Linked DNA regions of Homo sapiens: region 1 is linked to region 2. Evidence: fine-mapped expression QTL. A gene starts in region 2. The other region holds a variant in brackets. All regions are shown on one strand. Distances are between the middles of the regions.

Region 1 (10,827 bases), 160 kb after region 2:
ACACTTTGGGAGGAGGAGGCAGGCAGATCACTTGAAGTCAGGAGTTCAAGACCAGCATGGCCAACATGATGAAACCCCGTCTCTACCAAAAAAAAAAAAAAAAAAAAAATTAGCTGGGTGTGGTGGCACATGCCTGTAATCCCAGCTACTCAGGAGGCTGAGGCAGGAGAATGGCTTGAACCTGGGAGGTGGAGGTTAGGGTGAGCTGAGATCATGCCACTGCACTCCAGCCTGGGTGACAAAGTGAGACCCTGCCTCAAAATAAATAAATAAATAATAAAATATACACAAATAAATGCTTAGTCTAGAGGCCTCCAATTCCCTTCTGATTCAATTCAAAACTTTGCAGTTAATACACTAGCAATGGCTCCACAGTGGCCTTGCATCACAACGTTGCACTCCCTGTGGCCAGCGCTCCCTTTCCCATGCCATGCCTTTCACTTGAATTGCTTGCTCCATCTTTGCCCCTTGAAATCCTGCCCAGCCTTCGTGCCTACTTCCTCCAAGAACAACTCTGAATGCTCCTGCCTGAAGTGCTCTCGGCCTCTTCTAACACCCATATCTTTTGCTGTTCCCATGTCCTGTCTTCTATTATTGTTATCCAGGTATCAACTGTGTCTTTGCTGTGACTGGAGTACCTGTTCCTCAGGACAGACTTCTGCAGGATGTGATTCTTCTCTCCTTACAAGGCCCAACTCTAAGCTCTGCTCTCAGCTGTTGTTCAATGCATGAGTGACATGCTCAGGGTAAGGTCATTCCCACCACAGGATGGCCCAGTTCCTGGAATCATTCGGCACCAGAGTTCGAGAGAGAGGTGGCAGCACTATTAAGCCACTCTAGATCAGAAGATCAAGGACCAGGAAGGATGAACCAGTAGGTCCCTTCTGCAGAGAAAGCTCTTTGATGAGAATAAGATAAAGAAAGGCCTAAGAAGTGTTTTTACTATTGAATTGACACTTGAACTGTCCCATTCTCATACAGAAGCCTCACTCATCACCTGATATTTCTGGATTATAATTAAAATTGGATCCTGGGTTGAGTGGCTAATGAGGGTAATTATGTCAGTATTAGAATATTCCAACCAGGACTGGGCAGCTGTTGGGAAAGGACAGAAGAGAAGGATGCAAGTGTCTAAGAGCATGGCCACCCAGGATGAGACCTGACTTTATATTTTTATTTGAAGAAATAAGACCCAGGGCTTTGAAGCAGCTTGTGCAAGAAGCATCCAGCTAAGCCAGGCCTCAACCTCTGCCAAAGTTCATCTGAGCAGGAGGGAAACATGTGTGTTCTGAGAAGGAAGAGGATCATTTGGCCATGGGGTAGCTTAGCAAGAAACCAGGTTCTACTGGGGTGTGCCAGGTTAGATAGTAATGATCTAACCCAATCATACTGTGTCCTGGGATGGAAAAAGAGACAGGAAGGGTCACTTCAGAAAGATTCTTTATGGACATGGTGTACCTGCCAATCCTGGAAGAACCGGGACCCGGAGTGAGCAATGATTCACTGTTGCTGTGCAATAAACTCCAATCTTTGAAAGTAATATGGGTGTGTCATCTCCAGCTATGGAGTACTCCGAGGGGATCCACAGGCATCTTGGCACACAGAAAATCCATTTCTACTTTGTCCTGTTCAAATTTTAGTTTCCTGACTCACAGAATCAATGAGCATATTATAATGCTTATGTAAGCTTCCAAATTTTACAACTGCCGCAATATTAACTAGTACATTTACCTTGTCTCAACACAACAAATTTTTTCAAAGAGAAGAAATGATATTGGGCTTCTAAAAGAAACAAACATGATAAAATTGCCTAAGCTCTCCATTTGGAGCCTTCTCTCTGCTCATCTGCTTTGGTCTTCTCTGCAGTCCACCATCCTTTAGTCCACAGCATGAATGGAACATTTCTTCCCACAGCTCCCATGCACATCTGTTACAGGAGTAACTAGCCACATGTCACTTAGTCCTCTGGCCTAGCCTGGGTCAGTGTCCATCCTAGACCCAGTCCATGTGGTGAGGCTGCAGGGCCATGTGATATGGGCATGTATTGGAAGACAAGAGGTCACTAATGCTAAATAAATGTGGTGCAGGGAGGGCAGAGAGACCTTGAAAGGCATTCACTATATTCTCAGAGGTGAGCCCTTATAACTGATGCTGTTGATGCCCCATCCCTTATTCTCTTGGCCTATCACAGTTTGCCAATAGCTGAGGCACAGTTTTCTGCAAAGATGACAACCTTCCCACCTCCAGTGAGTATCTCCCTTCTCCTTTGCCTGTGAGCTTTATCACACCCATGATAGTTGCTTTTCTGCAGTTACATAGCCCAATCTTAAAGTACATTAGAATTAACACTCCCAGGCCAATCTTCAAACAATTCAAGCAAAGGAGGATGGGAAGTGGAGATAAAGTCGCAGGCCCTGTAGTCCTTAGGAAGATTCTGAGCTATATCACACATTTCATATGGTTTCTTAGAGAGTCGTAAAAGGGATTAAGCCAAGTTTTCCACATGATAACTGACTCATGAATGAACTCTTTATCTCATTTCTCATGTAATTGGCTTTCTTTCATTTCTCAATTTATTTCTGCACTTGTGTTTCCTGGGATCACTTCCCAAATCAGTGTGGTGAGCTGAGTAGTGCCCCCCCCCGCCCACCCTTTGAGTTATATCCACTAAGAAACTTATGAATAGAATGTATAACATGGCGAAATGGATGTTACACAAAATTAAAATTATGGACCTTAAATTAGAGAGATTATTCTAAACTGTCTGTTGGACTCAGTCAAATCACAGGAGTCTTTAAAAGTAAAAGGCAGACTGAGTGCCGTGGCTCATGCCTATAATCCCAGCACTTTGGGAGACCAAGGTGGACAGATTTCTTGAGCTCAGGAGTTTGAGACCAGCCTGGGCAACATGGCAAGACCCTGTCTCTACAAAAAAAATACCGGGGCATGGTGATGTGGGCCTGTGGTCTCAGCTACTTGGGAAGCGGAAGTGGGTGGATTGCTTGAGCCCAGGGGACAGTTTGCAGTGAGCCGAGATCACGCCACTGCACTTCATCCTGGGTGACAGAGCGAATCCCTGTCAACAATAAATAAATAAATAAATAAAAGGAAGGAAAAAAAGGAGAAGGTAAAAGAATCAGAATGATACAATGGAGAAAAAGAACTAGGAGAGGAGACTCAATGTACTGTTGCTGCTTTGAAGATGGAGGAAGGGAGCTAAGAGTCAGAGTGTGGCAGCCTCTAGAAGTGGGTACAGTCCCTGGCTATAAACCAGGAAACAACTGGGACCTCATTCCTGTAAATGAAGGGAACTGATTCTGCCAACGATCTGAATAAGCAAGGAAATAGATTCTTCCTTAGAGACTCCAGAAAGGAATCCAGCCTGCAGACACCTTGATTATAGCCTGGTGAGATCCCTGTGGGACTTCTCACCTACAGAACAGTGAGATAATAGATTTGTGTTGCTTTAAATCTATGAATTTCTGGTAATTCAGATGGCAACAATAGAAGAGGCATCCAATAAGGGTTTTGTGAAAATGCTGCAGTGAGGCAAACTGAAACTGTGGGGAGTACAGTGGGTATGTAGACTACTCTACTGTGCTGAGTAGACACCACAGTCTAGAAAAAACCAAGTTGAAGAGTCAGCATTATTAACAAATTTATTGAACAACTAGAACTTGACAAGCACTTGCCCAGTAGAGGGGATACAGTGGTGAGCAATAATAGTGATGATAATGAGGAGCAGTTTT[C/TC]CCTAGCAGGCAGCAGTTGAAAGGAATATGGGTTTAACATCCACCAATGACCAGGAGTGGACAGATCCTTTTCCAGGAGACTGAGTCCATAGTGGGATTAAAAACATCCCTGTAATTCTTCTAGCTTCCTTCATCCAAATTACCAATATTACAGAGAATCTCTAGGGTATTTGCTCTGCCTGGAAACCTTGACTGAAGGAAGGCTGGCTCTGGCTGCACGATCACTTATCACATTTGTTGGGTGGGAACACATCTGTGCCCCATTATTAACTGAGTGTGGCCTCTAGTCTCTTTCAAAGTCACATGCCCTGTGGGAACTGCAACGTTATTCTCTCAACCAAGACACTCTGCAGAGCCAATCCAAGGAGTGCTGGGTCTAAGGCTCTGATAATCAGCTGGGAAGGAGTCCATAGGGGTCTTAACTCCACAACCACTCACAGTGATCTCGATCCTGGAGCTGTCCTGGGAAGGGAACCTCAGGGCTACATGTGGGCTCTTCCCATGCAGGAAAAATCAGGCTGGAAAAGAACGGGCAATTGGCCAGGGACTGAAGCTGAACATCTCCCAACTGCACAAATTACCGTGTGAGTTATGTAAGCTACTTAATGTTGCCCTGCCTCTGCTTCCATACTTGCCAAATGAGACTACCTGACAGGGTGTTGTGAGGATTAAAGGAGTGACACCCACCAAAGCTCATAACACAGCACTCAGAACGTTTTAAATTCTCCATTAATGTTAGTCATTGTTGTTCAGATCCCAGCTCTGTTGTTCACTATTCCTGTCTGCTTTGTAAAGTCAATACACTTTTCTACACCCCAGTTTCCTTATCTGTATAAAGGGGCCAATAAGGTGGCACCAAACTCAAACAACTGTCCTATGGAATAATTGAATGAATATCAGTAAAGTGCTTCAGTGTGTGCCTGTAGCTTTATGGTTCTGACTGGCTGTTGTGGAGGGTGAGACCCTTAGCTCCAGGCTGGGCAGGGAGAAGCAGAGATGTTACTTCAGCCTGAGGCTCCCCACTTTCATTAGCTAAGCCTGGGGTCAGTGGTATCTCCAGGGAATGATCAGGCACTAGGTCGGGATCGGGGGAACTCTCTACTTTTGGTATTGGGCAAACGGTCAGGGCAGTGGGCTCCAAGGTCAAAATTCTGAATACAGGATACAGAGGCTCAGAGGAAGAGGCGTGCAGAAATGTGTAGATATGAGATCCATCCGTGGCATTGTAGAACGAGATATGTCCAGTCTCATAGTCCAGGATGACCCCCACTTTCCTAGGAGGCTCAGGAAGTTTCAGGTTGGTTCTGGGCTCAGTGAGAGCCCGATACTTATTCCCATCAGTCAGGCCCATAGTCCAGTATCCGTTCTCCGGTGTCATTTTGACCCAAACTTTTTTCCTCTCCACGTTCTTACTACATACCCCAATATGCCACTCTTTTCTGTCCCCCACTTCCACCTCCCAGTAGTGTCTCTCTGACATGAAGCTTTCACAGCCAAGCACACAGTAACGCCATTCAAATCTCTCAGGGTTGTCTGGTAGGTCATGGGGCTCCTCAGCACGCTGTACACTCCTCTGGTCCTCAGAAACAAGGAGGATGGCATTTGCCATGTCTGGATACAGAATTACATCTGCTGCAGAGAGTTTGAGGAGGTGTCCATGGGGTCAGCCATTTTTCCTGGATTTAAGAGCCACAGCATGCAAGGCTTGGGCCATGCTGAGGAGGTCCTTCCAGAACCCCGTGTCCCTAGCCTGCCCTGAATGTGATTCTCTCATCAATGTCATTGGTGAAAGCCCCAGGGGTCTAGTGACCAGAGGGGAAATGAAAGTAAGGTCAGTATCTGCCTAACCCAATACCCTGATGCGGCCCCAAGAAGCAACAAGGATCCTCTTTCTACATTTTTGTTGTTTCCCTCCCCACATTGATTCTGCCCACTGATGCTTTATACTCAGAGGTTAATTTTCTTTTCTTTTTTTTTTTTTTTTTTTTTCTTGAGACAGAGTCTCGCTCTGTCTCCCAGGCTGGAGTGCAGTGGCGTGATCTCGGCTCACTGCAAGCTCTGCCTTCCGGGTTCATGCCATTCTCCTGCCTCAGCCTCCCGAGTAGCTGGGACTACAGGTGCCCGTCACCATGCCCGGCTAATTTTTTATTTTTTGTATTTTTAGTAGAGACGGGGTTTCACCGTGTTAGCCAGGATGGTCTTGATCTCCTGACCTTGTGATCCGCCCTCCTCAGCCTTCCAAAGTGCTAGGATTACAGGCATGAGCTGCTGTGCTGGCCCTCAGAGGTTAATTTTCAATCTTCACTCGACCACTCGTGAGCTAAATGAGTTCCCCTTTTCTGCAGTCTATTTTTCCATACATCCAATTTATTTAACAAGGTGGAGCCTCATCTGAAGCATTTCCTCACCTGAAAAATGGGGATAAACATATGAATCTCTAGCGCTGTAGAAGGCAATCATATTATTTACTCAGCCCACAGCAGGCCATGAAGGAAGCTCCTCATCTTCCTGATAGCTGCAAGGCCGTCTCTGTGCTGGGCTCTGTGTGGGGCCTTATATGCCCTAGATTCACTCTCCAGCCTTCAGCTTTCTCCACCCTCTTCTGGACCCCAGGAATCTGTCCTCTATGGACAGTGCCACTGGGCTCCCTTGTCCTCTGGTTTGCTGCTGTGTTTGGCCAATGGGAGGCCCTGATAGAAGATTAGAAGGAGAAAGAAAGGAGATACACACCGTTTAATTTCCTGCTTCCTCCCTGCCAGCAGCAGCTGGTGGTGCTCTAACAAGGCCCGAGGACTCTTCTCAGGAAGCTCCCTCGTTAAGCTACCTCTTTCTCTGGGTTCCAGTAATTGCCTCCCCTTTTTAGCCCTCCCAGGCTAGGGGTGGAGACAGCTCCCCACTGTTGGGAACCATGGGGGCACTGCACTTTTCCTTGTTGCTTTCCCTTAACCCTTCTTTCTGGAAACCTTGTCCAACTACCCAGTTTGAGCTCACCATCTATTTCTTGCTAGGTTTCTGCCAAGCATGTTCATTATTCCTTCAGTCTTCACCTCAACCCCCATGAAAAACAGATTGCAATCATCATCTAAAAATGTGGAGGCCAAAGCTTGGAAGCATTAAATCCTTTGAGGAGATACAGGCAGTAGGTGGCATGAGAAGCCTGGGAAGGACAAAGTTCTTTGGGCAGGCATCACCTCCTCTCCTTGGCATTTCCATCCTCACTCTCCCTGCAGTATTACTCAGTGTGTGTCTCCTTCCCTTCACCTCCACCCTTTATGCGTCTTCCTACCCACGAAGGAAGTCAAGGGAACTTTTCTGCTCCAAATCACAAGAGTTGGAGAAGAAAAAAGGAAAAAGGAATATAGTCCCTCAGGTTGTTGGTCCAGGGAACATGCAGTGATTTACTCACCAGGCTTGAAGAGGGCCATTTTTCCATTCTGAAAGGAAGGAGACACAGATAAGAAAAAGGTCAGTATTTTTGTACTTTTCCCACTCCATTCTCCTCTCACTACATGTTTTCTCTCCTTTTCTTTAGAGTCTCTTCCAGGGTCCAGCTTCCCTCCTCTACAGCTCTGATGGATCAGAGGTGGCACCTTCTCAAAAATGTCAGGCTTGGCTCCCTGTGTCATGGGGGGTGCAGGATGCATGGCCAGGCTTTACAAGGGGGTGTGCAGGATCAGGAGTTTCTCAGAGGCTCCAGAAAAGCGGAGGTGAACCCCCACCACACAGAAATTGAGTCTTTAGATTAGATCTAATTAATCCAGCTGAGAACATCCACGGGTCACAGTGGAGAAAAAGTTGAAATATTCAGGGCATGTGACCCAGCAAACTTACAGAGCATCAGGCTGACTTATTGGTATCGGACGAAGACTCCTCTCCACCTACAATGAAAGAAAGGTAGAGGTGTCACCAGAACTCTGCCTTTTCTGTGTTGGCCCCTTCCCCTTCTTTTTGCATCCATCTAGTCTTTTTTTTTTTTTTTTTTTTTTTTTTTTTTTTTTTTTTTACCATCCCACCCTTCCCCATGGTCTCCATCTTCAGGTACAATTCTTTCTTCACCTCTTCTTAATATCAAGTCTGGGAACATCGGTTGAACGCTAGTGGCAGGGCAGGCACTGTGAGAGTTCCTTCCCAATGGGGTCCAGCTCATCTGTTTTGAATGTGTACCTGGGCATAGGTGTCACCATGTCTATATGTGTATGCCTAGGAGTACAAGATTCATCCTTCTCAATCTGTATCATTTCGTACCTTGCTCTAAAAAGAATTTGGGAAATTTAATGAGCAATTTCAGGGACTAGTTTTTGAAAGCAGTTATGATCTATCTGTACCAACTGAGCCACTGTAGCTACTCCTCTTTATTAGACACACTTTTCTCCCTCCCTCTCTCTTTTCTGATTTTCTTATTTCTTAAATCTTCCATTCTTGTTTTCCTTTCAACAGCCTCTAGATTATGGGAAACAACAAGTAAGTTTCCTGCCATAGAAAATGCACCTCATCCTTCTCTTCCCTCTTCCTTTTGAAGTGTACCCCTGGATATTCCTCAGTGCTTTTTAGAGCTTAAGGGTCTGTAGCCCCTAGTACAAAGAGATTGAAGACCTCTTTTTTTTTTTTTTTTTTTTCTAGAGAGAAAAAGCACTGGGTGGTTTCTCCAAAGAGCCACACTTGTTTTCTTTTTCTGGGTAAAGGGATCCAAGACCACTTTTCAACCCTGGGCTATGACTTATGGGCTGGAAAATAATGAAGCAGAGAGAGAGTAACAGATTTGAATTCAGAGAAAATGTCAAAGCCACTCACGAGTCAAGTACTGGATTTTTTTCCTCTCTGCAATGGAATGAACAGGGAAGAGTCATCAAGGTGCTCAAAGCGAGGATAGGAAGACATGTCTGGATCTCTGGGGGAATGGTAACTTACTGAGTTCCTCCTGGAGGCTCTCTGGAAAATAACCAAAAAAAAAAAAAAAAAAAAAAAAAGATGAACTGTTATGGGTGAGGTTGGTGTTTCGGGAAATAAACCTTAAACATGATGCAGTGCCAGGGTAGGGGAGAGAGGTGAGGTTTTCAGGCTGGGGCATGCAAGCCAAGAGCTTAGATTCTCTGCTTGCGTTGGATACCTCTTAGGCTTATTTCCCGCTCTGTTGCAGCATATCCCATTTCTTTCATCTCTTGCTCACTTTCTATCTCACTGGACAGAGCAGTTATTTCCTTCTGTTGTCTCCACAAGAAGTAACTGGCTCCGGCGAGAAGCAGCAGCAAGATAGGCAGGGTCCCTGCCAGGGCTGCGATCCAGGGCTGGGCGCTCCTGAAGAAGGGGTCTGCGAAGGGGAGAGCTGTAGGTCATGGGCGCTGGTGCGCTCAGCCTCCCCAGCCTGCAGCACCCCAAGCTTTAGCTGCTCAGCTCAGGTCGGGGGTGGGGAATCTATCTCATGAGGTTAAATAAGGATTCTCTCCCTAAAGTCTCAGAGGACTATAGATAAGACTTTGGTAAACCCTCACTACAAGCTACTACTATTACTTATCTTGAGATGTCTGCCTCTCACATGGAAAGTAACTTGAGCAAAGTCATACACATTTTTTCTAAATATTTTTTCAATAGGTAACACATTTACATCGTTCAAAACTACATACACATAAAGTCACGCAACTCTCTCATTCACCCTGTCCTCCCTCCCTCCATGTATTAACTTCTTAGTCCACTTAATATGATGCTTAGGAACATAACCTGTGGAGTCAGAGGGTATGGGTTTCAATGCTGGCTCCCCCATGTGACTAGCAGTGTGATGTTGGACTACTTACATAACCTCTCTGTTTGTAGTGGCCTAATCTACTAATGTAAAATGAGGGTAATGATAATACCTATTTCCTGAGGTTAGAAGAATTGAATTAATACTTATAAAGTGCCTGATGTACAGTAAGTGTTACAAAATTGCTTGTTGAAGTTTAAAAATGTAAACTAACCCAATTGAGAACTAAAAAAAAGTAAATTAAAATATATTCTTATTTTTCCTCTTGTTTAAACTAAAAATAGCATTCTATACACGTCCCTCTGCATCTTGCTTTTTCTGTGTAAAGTGTATCTTGGAGATCTTTCCATATTAGTATAGAGAGAATTGCTTCTTTTTCCTTTTACAAACTGTGCAGTATTCCCTTGTATGGAAGTTCCCTGGCAGTGAACATCTGCACAGTTTCTAACCTTGTGCAATAGTAATCAGTGCTATAAGAAACCTTTTACAGGCCGGTTGCAGTGGCTCACGCCTGTAATCCCAGCACTTTAGGAGGCTGAGGCGGGTGGATCACTTGAGGTCAGGAGTTTGAGACCAGCCTGGCCAACATGGTAAAACCTTGTCTCTACTAAAAATACAAAAATTAGCTGGGTGTGGTGGCACATGCTTGTAATCTCAGCTACTTGGGAGATTGAGGCAGGAGGATCACTTGAACCTGGGAGGCAGAGGCTGCAGCGAGCTGAGATTGCACCACTGCACTCAAGCCTGGGCAATAGAGTGAGACTTTGTCTAAAAAAAAAAAAGACACACACACAACGAAAAACAGAAACCTTTCACATGGATCATCTCATACAAATGCAAGCTTATCTATCAGATAAATTCCTAGAAGTGGAAGTTTGGATCGATAAGTGTGTAGTTTGGATAGATATTGCTATAGAGCCCCCAACAGAGGTTGACCTAATGCACATCAAAAATACAGGAAGTTACATGAGCAAATGACTGAGAGTCACTGCCTTCCTACATTCCTATGAGAATCATGTATTATAAGCCAAAGCAGTTTTGATTTTTGCAAATATCATAAGTGAAAAATTATTTCATATGTTTACCCAGTGAGTGAGAATGAGCACCCTTTTGTGAGTTATTTCCTTTTCTGTGAATTGATAATTCATGGGCTTTGTTAACATTTTTTTTACTTGGTTTCTATTTTATTTTATTTTATTTATTTTTTGAGACAGAGTCTCGCTCTGTAATCCTGGCTGGAGTGCAGTGGTCTGCTCTCACTCACTGCAACGTCTGCCTCCTGGGTTCAAGTGATTCTCGTGCCTCAGCCTCCTGAGTAGCTGGGATTAGAGGTGCACTCCA
Region 2 (11,518 bases):
TGAGTTTGAGTAATTAGGACTTAGGCCTAGGGCTGGCATTCATGGGCACTGTGTGACTTTTTTAAAGCTTTTGTCTATCATACCTTCTGCCCCACCCTTGAAAACATTTACTGGGAAATTCTGTAACCTTGTGAGTGGCCACCATTCTACAATGTTATTATTATTTTTTTAATCTTGTCTCCAAATTGCTCCAGTTTTTTTTTTTTTTTTTTTTTTTTTTTGAGATAGAGTCTCAGAGTCTCGTTCTGTCACCCAGGCTGGAGTGCAGTGGTGCGATCTCGGCTCACTGCAACCTCTGCCTCCCGGGTTCAAGCAATTCTCCTGCCTCAGCCTCCTGGGTAGCTGGGATTACAGGCGCACGCCACCATACCCAGCCAATTTTTGTATTTTTACTAGAGACAGGGTTTCACCGTGTTGGCCAGGCTAGTCTCGAACTCCTGACATCAGGTGATCCACCTGAGAATTGCTTGAACCTGGGAGGCGGAGGTTGCAGTGAGCCGAGATTGTGCCACTGCACTCCAGCCTGGGGGACAGAGTGAGACTCTGCTTCAAAAAAAAAAAAAAAAAAGGTAATGGTGCCACTGAGACATACAGTTCTACTGATCTAACTACACCTGACCTGCTCTCTTCTGAAGAAATCCTTGCCTAGACATTACATGAATTTATTGCTAATTTTTGTCTTTTTCCCTTTATTTCAAATGCAACATTAAGGAATCATTTTAACAATTTTTAGGAAACAAAAGGAGTTACTCTTACAATGAAGGAACCAGTGAAAATCACTTGGTCTAATGGTAGGGTGACTTGATTTATACCTGTTGCCCTAGTATAATTATTCATAATGTTCCCTTTTACTTTGAAAGGTGACCTAACTTGGGCAATGAATAATAAGGTTACCCCAAATATTCTGCATATATTTTTAGAGGCCTTTATGTTATCAGAGAATGAGAGTGTTTAACCAAAAAGTGAGATTTTGGCCTAGCACACATTTCCCTAAGAATAGATACTCCATACCATTCTCCTTCCATCTCACTCCAAAATTGTTTCTCAGCCCATTTCCTGGTGTGAGAATGCTCACACAGTCTCTTTTCCTGGGTTCAGTCTTCTTCGAGTTAGATCCATTGAAGTCCATCCGAAGTAGGGGGGCCATGATCTCCACATGTCAAAGGCCAAAATACAGCAGGTGACAAAATAAAATCAGGAAAAATAGGCCACTGCCTGGATGCTGTATCTGAGTATATAAATACGGATTTAATTCTTGAAACTCACCTTTAGGAAGCTGATTAGGAGACCAGGTCACTGACTCTCTAGAGACCTTACAAATGTGGGAGACAGATACACACATAATGAAAAGGGACCAGAGAGATGGGTAAAAGCTCTTACCATTTCCATAAAGGACAAGGAGGTTGGAAAAGGAAGGAGCTCTCACCACACAGTGGTTTTAACTCAGAAGAAATTATTTGAGGTGGCGCAGAAGAGATTTTTAGGTAAATGAAACTCTTTTGTATGCTACTGTAATGGCATATATTATAAAATGGTAGATGTTATGCACTTGACAAAACCCACAGAACTTCATACAGTGAGTGAACCCTGATGTAAACTATATATTTTAGTTAATAATAAGCTATCAATATTAGTTCATCATTTGTAACAAATGTACCACACCAGTGTAAGTTGTTAATAACTTAGGAGAAACTGAGGTGGGGGAAAGGAAGTATGTGGGAACTCTGTATCTTCTGCTCAATTTTCTGTAAACCAAAAATTGCTCTGAAAAAAGGAAGTCTATTAATGTAAAAAAAAAATACGCATTTTAAGAGTTCAAAAAAATAATGTTAATGATAAAATATAAAAGTCATTACAAATACTCCTTCATGCATGTGGAAGAAAAGAAAAATTATTAACTGGCAGATAAATCTTACTAGTAATTGTACAACTTTTGGAAACATAGAGAAATGACTTTCAATGGTATCATCAGGGCAAGAAATTATCAAGACAGATACTGAAGTTATTTTCCCAAGACATGGCAACAATTTTAAAAGTTTTAGAAATATAACAGTTCCCCTTTGTTAAAATAACTCTTCCAATAACATTATATTACAAACAACAGAGCAAGTTAGTGAAAGTTTTGAATCACTCGTCTTCATTGCACAGAACTGGACTGAAATTCTCATGAAAGCTCTCAATTTAACTCCTCATTTAACCAGATTGCTGTAGGGGAGAAGAAACATCTGCTTCATCCTTCTTCCAATCCTTTTGTTAGCATGAAGACTTGCATTTTTATCATTAGAAGAAGATCATGATGTTTAAATTAACTGGCAAAAATAGCTTTAAAAAAAAAACTAATAGTGAAATAAAAAGCAAAATAGGGTATTATGGGTGGGCCCTAATTCAATATTACTGGTGTACTTATAGGAAGAGGAGATTAGGATACAGACAACATAGAGGAACACATCTAAGGATGTAGTGGGAGGTGGCCATCTGCAAGCCAAGGAGAGGCCTCAGAAGAAACCAAACCTGCCGACATCTTGATCTTGGACTTCTATCCTCCAGAAGTCAAAGAAAATTAATTTTTGTTGTTTAAGTCACTCAGCCTGTGGTACCTTGTTTCGGCAGCCCTAGCGGACTAACATAGGAGGGAACAGTGTAAGAATTTAGTGACTCAGGCAGGGCGTGGTGGCTCACGCCTGTAATCCCAGAACTTTGGGAGGCCAAGGTGGTCAGAAGTTCGAGACCAGCCTGGCCAACATGGTGAAACCCTATCTCTACTAAAAATACAAAATTAGCCATGGGTGGTGGTGCGTGCCTGTAATCCCAGCTACTAAGGATGCTGAGGCAGGAGAATTGCTTGAACCCGGGAGGCAGAGGTTGCAGTGAGCCGAGATTGCGCCACTGCACTCCAGCCTGGGCAATAGAGTGAGATTCTGTTTCAAAAAAAAAGGAATGTAATGACTAGGGAAACATCTTGGATTAGATTAATTTGGGGGTCTCACCCAGCTCTCAAAATATATTTTTCCATGTTTTTTCTCTTTCATAGCAAGCAAATCCATGGACCAAAATGCCACCTCATTCAATACTCATTTTCACCTCATCCCTAGCAAACACAAGGCACATTTTAGCAGCATCTTTTTGATCACTCGATGGATACGGAACTGGGTTTCTGGGAGGTAGTTCTAACTTGGGTTTTAGCCTCAATCCCACCCCGAAATCAGAAGGTTCCCCTCTCCCTCCCTGCCTCTTACTTAAGGAGAGATCGTGTTTGGGGGTTGGAGGGAAGATCTGGAAGAAAGTTAAGAACACCAAGCTTAGGAAGGAGAGAATAAAGGATATAATTAAAATACAATAAAAAATGCACAGGCAAATGCTGGGCGTGGTGGCTCACGCCTGTAATCCCAGCACTTTGGGAGGTGGAGGCAGGTGGATCACTTGAGGTCAGGAGTTCAAGACCAGCCTGGCCAACATGGTGAAACCCATTTCTACTAAAAATACAAAAATTAGCTGGGTGTGGTGGCATATGCCTATAGTCCCAACTACTTGGGAAGCTGAGGCAGGAGAATCACTTGAGCCTGGGAGGCGGAGGTTGCAGTGAGCCAAGATTGTGCCACTGCACTCCAGCCTGGGTGACAGAGCAAGACCCGGTCTCAAAAAAAAAAGAAAAAAAAAAAAAGATTCACAGGCAAGATGCAGTGTGCTACAGAAGCAAGAGGTCACATGGTGTCAGTCACTCTCCAGGGCGTTTGTTCTTCATCTTCCAAAGTATTAGAGACGCAGCATGAGTTTCCACGGAGGTTAAGTGAGAGAGACTGGGAGATGCAGGGGTAGAAAGGAAAGATGAGAAAACGCAGGGTGTCTAAAAGGGTAGGTTTGCTGCTGCAGCTTGCCAGAATGCATCTGCTTTAAAGAGAAGGAGTGAGCCATAAGCTCCCAAACAGTCACCCATCTGTAAAGGTTGGTTAGGGGCACACTCACCTTCCAGGCTAAAGTATTCCTGCTAACTGGGATCGGAGAAAGATGAAGAGGATAAATCCTTGTCATCTCCTAGGACCCTGGAACCTTTGCCCCCTTTCTGGGCACCATAATAACTTGCTTATATTTCTGAGTAGTACAGAGGGGATTTTAAATGAAAATGTATTAGACAGGTTGCTGTTGAGCACATGCCCAAGTTTATTGTCTTGCTAACCAAGATATTATCTTGCTAGCCAAGGTGTTGTCTTGTTAAGGGAACCAGCAAGATGACAAAAGAATGGACCTTTCAAGTCAACGTCTACCCAAGCAGCCTGTTTAAGAAAATGATAAAAAGAAAACAGCTCATTAACATTGTCCTTTTCTTTCTTTTCTTTTCTTTTTTTTTTTTTTTTTTTAATTTTGCGGACCCACCAAAGAATGCAGCCCTTCTTTTCTCATGGTCATAAAAATATCACATTCGGTTGGGCGCGGTGGCTCATGCCTGTAATCTCAGCACTTTGGGAGGCCGAGGCGGGCGGATCACTTGAGGTCAGGAGTTTGAGACCAGCCTGGCCAATATGGTGAAACTCCGTCTCCAACTAAAAATACAAAAATTATCCGGGTGTAGTGTTACACACCTGTAGTCCCAGCTGCTCGGGAGCCTGAGGCACAAGAATCGAGGTGGAGGTTGCAGTGAGCGAGATCGCACCATTGCACCCCAGCCTGGACAACAGAGTGAGACTCCGTCTCAAAAACAAACAAACAAAAACAAACACATCACATTCTTATTAGTCATTTGAGGGAACCTGGAGCAATATGATCTGAGAGGCTAGGCTTGGCTAATCCCTAGAAAAAGTAGTAATACATCTAAGAAAGAAATCCCTCTTAGGGAACACCCGAGGCTGCCAGGTGACACAACAAAACTTTCTCATAAAAGCGTTTGATTAATCCGATTAACTTGTAAGCAAGCCATGTGGCAGAGGTAAGAGGCCAAACACCAAGGCACCAGTCCTGATTCTAAACAAGTGCTGGTCCATTTCTTAACTTTGGGATCCATTTTTTCTTTGTGATGGAATAGCAAAAGGTCAAAGTGGAGGAGGACTCAGCCCTTGGGTGTCTCCTCAACGAGGGTTTCTCGAAGGTAAATTGGGGAGGAAGGGAGAGCCCACGGCAGGTCAGTCCAACCTGCCAGTCACCACCTCTTTAAGGCCACAGCCCTGCGGGAGCAATCCTTTCAAATCCCCTTCCTTCCTTCTTTTAGAACGCCCCTAGAACGCCGATTAGGACTTCTCATCCCGGTCGGGCCTGCGGCTCTCTGTGACCCCACCTCTGGATTCAGCTTTTCCCAGGGATTCACACTCGGAGCTCAGGAGAGATGCTGCGATTACTCTGGAGACGGGAAGACAGGCGGGGCTGACGGGGCCCAAGGCCCCTAATCATGACCGGGGCCAGCTGGCAGGAGGGTCCTAAGTATACGGAGGGCGGCGGGACCCCCCCCACCACGCCCCTCATTTTCCGGGGTAGCGCACAAAGTCTGTGAGGCACTTACCCGAGTCTCGTGGCCGTCCGAGGGGCGCGGGAATCCCAGCTGAGGCCCGTGACGCGCCGGAGCCCTAGGCGTGGGCAGGGCCAGCACCAGCCCTAAGACAGAGAAGACGAGCGGAGCCCGGCTCCGCCAGGAACAGGAAGGCGAGGGAAGGTGAGGATGCGCTTCCGGGGCTGCAGGCGGGGAGCCGCCCCGAGTCCAAGCCGGAGAGAGCTGGTTCTCCCCCTGGCGATACGTGTGTGAGCCTCTGAGGCCCGCCCTAAGCACTGCTGCCCCGATCTAGCAAGACAAGAAGACAGGAAATTTATGACAGCCTGAAAAAGTCTTTAAAAGATACACACTGGAAGAATTTCGTAGTAAGATGAGGAAAAAAAAACGTGTTTCCGCCCGGTTTCGAACCGGGGACCTTTCGCGTGTGAGGCGAACGTGATAACCACTACACTACGGAAACCCACTAAGGGCTTATTTTTCAGAGTAAATAGTTCTTCCTGCCTAGTTCCGTGTTTCTTCGTTCCAAGTGCGTGTTTTGCTGATGTGCGCGTGCGTCTCTGTACCGACCTCTCAAACCAGAAAAACCAATGAAAAGCTCAGACCCAGCCCCTCCAGTGTTCAAACTGAAGCCATAGAATTTATTCTACAAATGACTGAATAGGGAAGAACACAATAGAGACTTTAATTTAATCTCTGAACGGTCCTTCGTTCTTCGGCCAAAATGGCCAGGCAAGGCTGGGCACAACTTGGGTAGGGCGAGCGTTTCTCTGGCGTAGTTGGCGTTACCACGTGGTCAGTGGCAGAATGCTCCGCAAAGAAATGATAACCCCATATGTTGTCGGGAGCTGCCCCTCTTGCTTCTGAGTCTTCCAGGCAAATTTATCTTGCAGGAATTTCCTTACTCCTGCGGAGTCAGAAAGTTGTAAAACGACCCTGCTTACACCGAGCCAGCCAGGAGTCGAACCTGGAATCTTCTGATCCGTAGTCAGACGCGTTATCCATTGCGCCACTGGCCCTGCGCGTACCTTAGGGGCGAGGTATTTCATAAGAAACTAGGTTGTACCCGTAATATCTGGGTGAACGCCTGTAAGCCGCGTTTGCCCGCTGGTCCAGGCTCGCAGCGCATGGACTCTCTGGTAGCTACTTCTGCACACGCCCCGTGGCCTTCATTCCTTTCTCGGTCTGTCTCTGCCGGCTGAAAAATGGCGGTGAAAAGCAAGCCCTGCATCCTCTCTGCCCCAATATCACCGCTCCATTAATGCGTTCGTTCATTCAACCAGTATTAGTGTTCAAGGCACTGCAGATAACGGTGAAGAAAACATGAGAGACCCTTGCCCTCAAGATTACATGGCAGTGGCGGAAGCGGATAATAAAGCATTAAATAAACAAAATAATAGTGATAAGCGATTGGAGAAAAATAATAATAAAACAGGGAAAGAGGATAGGAAAGGCCAGCAGTGAAAGTGATGAATGAGGGATAAATGCTGATATCGGGGAAATGAGTGATCTGGAACAGGGAAAAATCGCTAGGGAAAAGGCCTGGAGGTGGAAGCAGGCTTGGGAGTTATGTTGAGGAGGCCGGTGCTCAGTGGAGAGGAATAGGAGATCCTGGGAGACCACCTCCAGCTTTATAGGCCCTTGTAAGGACTCTGGCCAGCTTTACAGGCTCTTGTAAGGACTCTGGCTGGTATTCTGTAGGAAACTGGAAGCCGTTGTACGGTGACGTGGTCTGAGTTTTCATTTGTCTCTCTGTGGGTCTTTTTTTTTTTTTCTTCAAATATTTTACTAAGCGAAACTGTGCTAGGCCTCCTCACTGCATGCTGCTTCTACTGCAGGGCCTTGATCTCAGAATTTGACAGCTTTATAAGGAGCATCATCAACCCGGACACTCATATGAATGTTCACTTTTTCACTTTGAAAGCAAACAAACGTCTCATATGTGTGTGTTTTAGTTTGTCCATATTTCTGAGAATAAATCATCCCCATGCCTGGTGAGCATTTTAAATAAGATGAGGTCTACTAAACAGAAGTAAAACTGCCTGATATTGAGAATATACACTTTGAGATTAGAAAATATTTGTTTTCAGTTCATAAGGTTTCAACAGCCGTTACAAAAAATATTCTGCTCTTTCTGCATAAATATTAAGGTAGACCTAGGTTATGGATTACTCCCTAGGCAATAGCATAGGGATCTTCTCGTTAGGTTTTGTACTATGGACCCCAAGGGCAGCTTGGTGATTCTGGACTCTATCTCAGAATAATACTTTTAAATACACGAAAGAAAAGATAAATATGTAAGATTTCAAAAGAAAACTAATTATGTTAAAATAGGTTACCAAAACTTTTTTTTTTTTTTTTTTGGAGACAGAATTTTGCTCTTATTGCCCAGGCTGGAGTGCAATGGCGCGATCTCGGCTCACCGCAACCTCTGCCTCCCGGGTTCAAGCGATTCTCCTGCCTCAGCCTCTCAAGTAGCTGGGATTACAGGCATGCTCCACCACGCCCGGCTAATTTTGTATTTTTAGTAGAGACGGGGTTTCTCCATGCTGGTCAGGCTAGAGCATCCCTGGAAGTCACAGGTCCCACCTAGCACCTTAAAAATGAGCTTTAACCCAGCTGGCTGTAGGCTCTGTCCACATTCAGTCTCCTTAGTGTTTGTCTATAAAAATTTATCTGTGTTTTGCAGGCTTTGAAGACCTCCCTTGGGTGCCTCAAATTTCTTAGCCATATTCACTACAATAAATGCTTTCAGCTGGGCGTGGTGGCTCACGCCTGTAATCCCAGCGCTTTGGGAGGCCGAGGTGGGCGGATCACGAGGTAAGGAAATCGAGACCAGCCTGCCCAACATGGTAAAACCCCGTCTCTACTAAAAATACAAAAAATTAGCCGGACGTGGGTCCCAGCTACTCGGGAAGCTGAGGCAGGAGAATTACTTGAACCCGGGAGGCGGAGGTTGCAGTGAGCCGAGATCGCGCCCATTGCACTCCAGCCCAGGCAATAAGAGCAAAACTCTGTCTCAAAAAAAAAAAAAAAGAAATGCTTTTGCTTTGCTCTTGGAAATCTTTCTACATCTTTTCTGACAGTTCCAGTTTCAACTTCCAGTCTTTTCTTCAGCATATATCGGAGAAAGAGTCCAGATATATAAATCTAGATATATATCTATATATATCTAGGGTGAGGACTGGCAAGTCTGAAACCTGTAGGGTTGTAGGGCAGGCTGGAAACTCTCAGGCAGAAGCTGATGCTGAAGTCTTGAAACAGAATTTCTTCTTCCTTAGGGAGGCCTTTGTTTTGCTCTCAAAGCCTTTTAACTGATTGGATAAGGCCCATCTACATAAGGGAGAATCTTTTTTTAAGGTTAACTGATTGTTAACCACATTTACAAGATAACTTCACAGAAACATGTAGGTTAGTGTTTAATTGAATAACTGGGTAGCCTAAGTTGACACATACAACTATGACAGTGGTGGACTCTTCTCTGTGTTTCAGTGCAGTTTTTTTTAGTTTCACTCCCAGGCACATGGAAAACTACACCATCTGCCACTCTCACATTGTTTTACATGACTGTCGGCAGTCTGTGACACAGCCACCTGCATCCTCTCCAATTTCAGACGTGTGGAGCGGAGCCAATGTGAGGGTTCCATGGTTCCTAATCACAGTCGGAACTGAATAGAAGATATGGTTCACACCAAGAGTTCTGTAAATGATTGCTCAAAGTCTCAATTTGCTTCCAAGGCTCATCTCTGGCTAAACAATTCCTTTGACATTCTAGAAATTCTGTGCAAACTTCGTCAGCTGCCAAAGGAAAAACCAAAATAAAATACTATTGGCTCTGCTGTCTGGGGCCTGCCACAGTTGGGTTAAAGCCATATTAGGTGTGACTGTGCTATTTATGATGATTATATTGGCTCCAAGCACACTAATAATATGATGGCTAATCTTATAATAATAAAGTAATAAGTGCTTATTTCATGAGTCTCAATCAAAGTGAGTGCTGAATTCATAGACTGGCATCTTTTTTTTTTTTTTTTTTTTGAGACGGAGTCTCGCTCTGTCGCCCGGGGTGGAGTGCAGTGGCGCGACCTCAGCTCACTGCAAGCTCTGCCTCCCAGGTTCACGCCATTCGCCTGGCTCAGCCTCCCGAGTAGCTGGGACTACAGGCGCCCACCACCACACCTGGCTAATTTTTTTGTATTTTTAGTAGAGATGGGGTTTCACCGTGTTAGCCAGGATGGTCTCGATCTCCTGACCTCGTGATCCGCCCGCCTCGGCCTCCCAAAGTGCTGGGATTACAGGCGTGAGCCACTGCGCCCGGCCGACTTGCATCTTTTTATAAAAATGAAAACTCTAGTCGGCGTGACCTTTTACTGTTCCCCCCATCGCATACATAGGCAAAGGTACATGCCAATGTCTGCCTTAGACTGTGACAGAGAAATCCTTCAAATATTGATACAGCTAAGGAATACTGAAATGTCTGTTTCAGCATAACCACCAGGACAACAGATTTCAAGTAAAACAGCCAAACATAATTACAGGTTTCATTTGGGAAGTTACTTTCACAGCTGTGCCAACAATTTGTATACTCTTCAGAATTTCATTAAACCCCTTTATTCAAATTATACTCCCAAGATCAGATTTATTTTTAATAGAGAACAGAATAAGTTGGAAACACATAAGCCCCCATGACAATATAGAAATTTTCTCTCTCTCTCTCTCTCTATATATATATAATATATATATACACATACACACACACACACACACACACATATATATAATGCTGATTTGACACATCAAATCAGATCCTTTGGACAAGTATTAGGACAAGAAAGCTTTTCTTTCTGTGTAGCTATACCGGGAAGGGGACTTCTTTATCTCTTTCCAAGATTAAGTTGTTAATTCTTAAATCTTGCATTTTTAAGAAGCAACTCTGGAACCCCATTAGTTAATCTTTAATAAGCAAGAAGCAGGTAGGTGGAGCCCAGTTTTAACGGAAAGAAATGGGGTAAGGAATGACTGGAATTTTAATCTAATTCCAGTTTAATTTAAAAGCCATGAAATAAGAAACAAATAGCTTCCTTCCTGCTAGATCAGTTCTTGGTGCCGTAAGTGTTCTGGTGTAAATGCATTACACGACTCGGAGGAGTGTTCTGTAAATGTGGCTGGCTACCCGCTCTCCTACCCTCTTCTCCCTGAAGCCCGAGGTCATACTTTATCCACGTTAGGATGAGCTGCTTGCTATTTGAGGCAGTTTCTCGGAGGACTCTCCTGTTCGCCCCGGGGCGGGGGTCAGGCTATCGCCAGCCTTTCCCTCACCCCCCACCTCCCCCACGCGAAAAACCTCGTTATCCTGCAGCTGAGCGGTTTCTTAGGTCTTTTGGGGCGAAGCCAAGGTTAATCTTCAGTGTCTGAAGAAGCGTGTAGCTACTTTCAAACCTCAGTAACAAGAAAGTGTATCAATGCACAGAACAAAGGCAAAGATCATCTCTTTTCTATGCTCATTTGTACCACCGCAGGCATGGTGGCTCCGTGGCTTAGCTGGTTAAAGCGCCTGTCTAGTAAACAGGAGATCCTGGGTTCGAATCCCAGCGGGGCCTGTTGTAGTTTTCCTGCATTCAAAGTACCCACGGAACAGTTGAAGTATGCGTGAAAGGTTATTTTCCCCTATGGGGCTCCATCAAAGTGTTTTATATGCGTCCGGTGTGAAACCTCCTTGTTTACGAAAAAGAAGCAAAGATAAATTTGGCTTTCTTTCAGAATAATGAAATTCTGAATTTCTTGCTTTTCTTACACTTTTCTTCCACATGTTATATCTTACAACATGTACGAGAGGAACCAGGGAAAGCAGAAGGCAAACACCAAATTTAAACTACAAGCAACATCATAATCTCTAGTCATTCTATTTTCTTTCCTGGGGAAATCCTAAACAGATTCATTGTCAGAATCTGCAGGTAATGTTTTTAGAAGGTCAATCTTTGGAATGATTCATAATCTGTTGTTGAGAAGGCTGTAGCATCTCTGAAAATTCACAGCAAACAGTAA

Evidence for each region. PIP is the estimated chance that this variant, and not a neighbour inherited with it, causes the effect.
Region 1: its variant is fine-mapped to the expression of HMGN4 in whole blood (INTERVAL, PIP above 0.99).

What each region holds. Positions count from the first base shown.
Region 1 is chr6:26,371,127-26,381,953 of GRCh38, reverse strand. It overlaps BTN3A2 (butyrophilin subfamily 3 member A2), which reads right to left. Exons shown (of 11, transcript NM_007047.5): 6 at 8,857-9,057; 7 at 8,658-8,678; 8 at 8,541-8,567; 9 at 7,581-7,627; 10 at 7,156-7,183; 11 at 3,642-6,157. The coding sequence ends at 7,587. Among named protein-coding and RNA genes, the nearest start is that of BTN2A2, 6.6 kb to the left of the region's middle. The variant C/TC (reference allele first, on the strand shown) is at 3,750.
Region 2 is chr6:26,532,472-26,543,989 of GRCh38, reverse strand. It overlaps HMGN4 (high mobility group nucleosomal binding domain 4), which reads right to left and starts at 5,624. Exons shown (of 2, transcript NM_006353.3): 1 at 5,489-5,624. TRR-ACG1-2 (tRNA-Arg (anticodon ACG) 1-2) reads right to left here and starts at 6,492; the gene lies at 6,420-6,492. It overlaps TRV-CAC1-6 (tRNA-Val (anticodon CAC) 1-6), which reads right to left and starts at 5,936; the gene lies at 5,864-5,936. TRT-AGT2-1 (tRNA-Thr (anticodon AGT) 2-1) reads left to right here and starts at 11,000; the gene lies at 11,000-11,073. RefSeq lists enhancers at 5,004-5,413, 6,674-7,338, 7,428-7,927, silencers at 5,904-5,953, 6,347-6,640, 11,028-11,117 and a cis regulatory region at 10,533-11,286.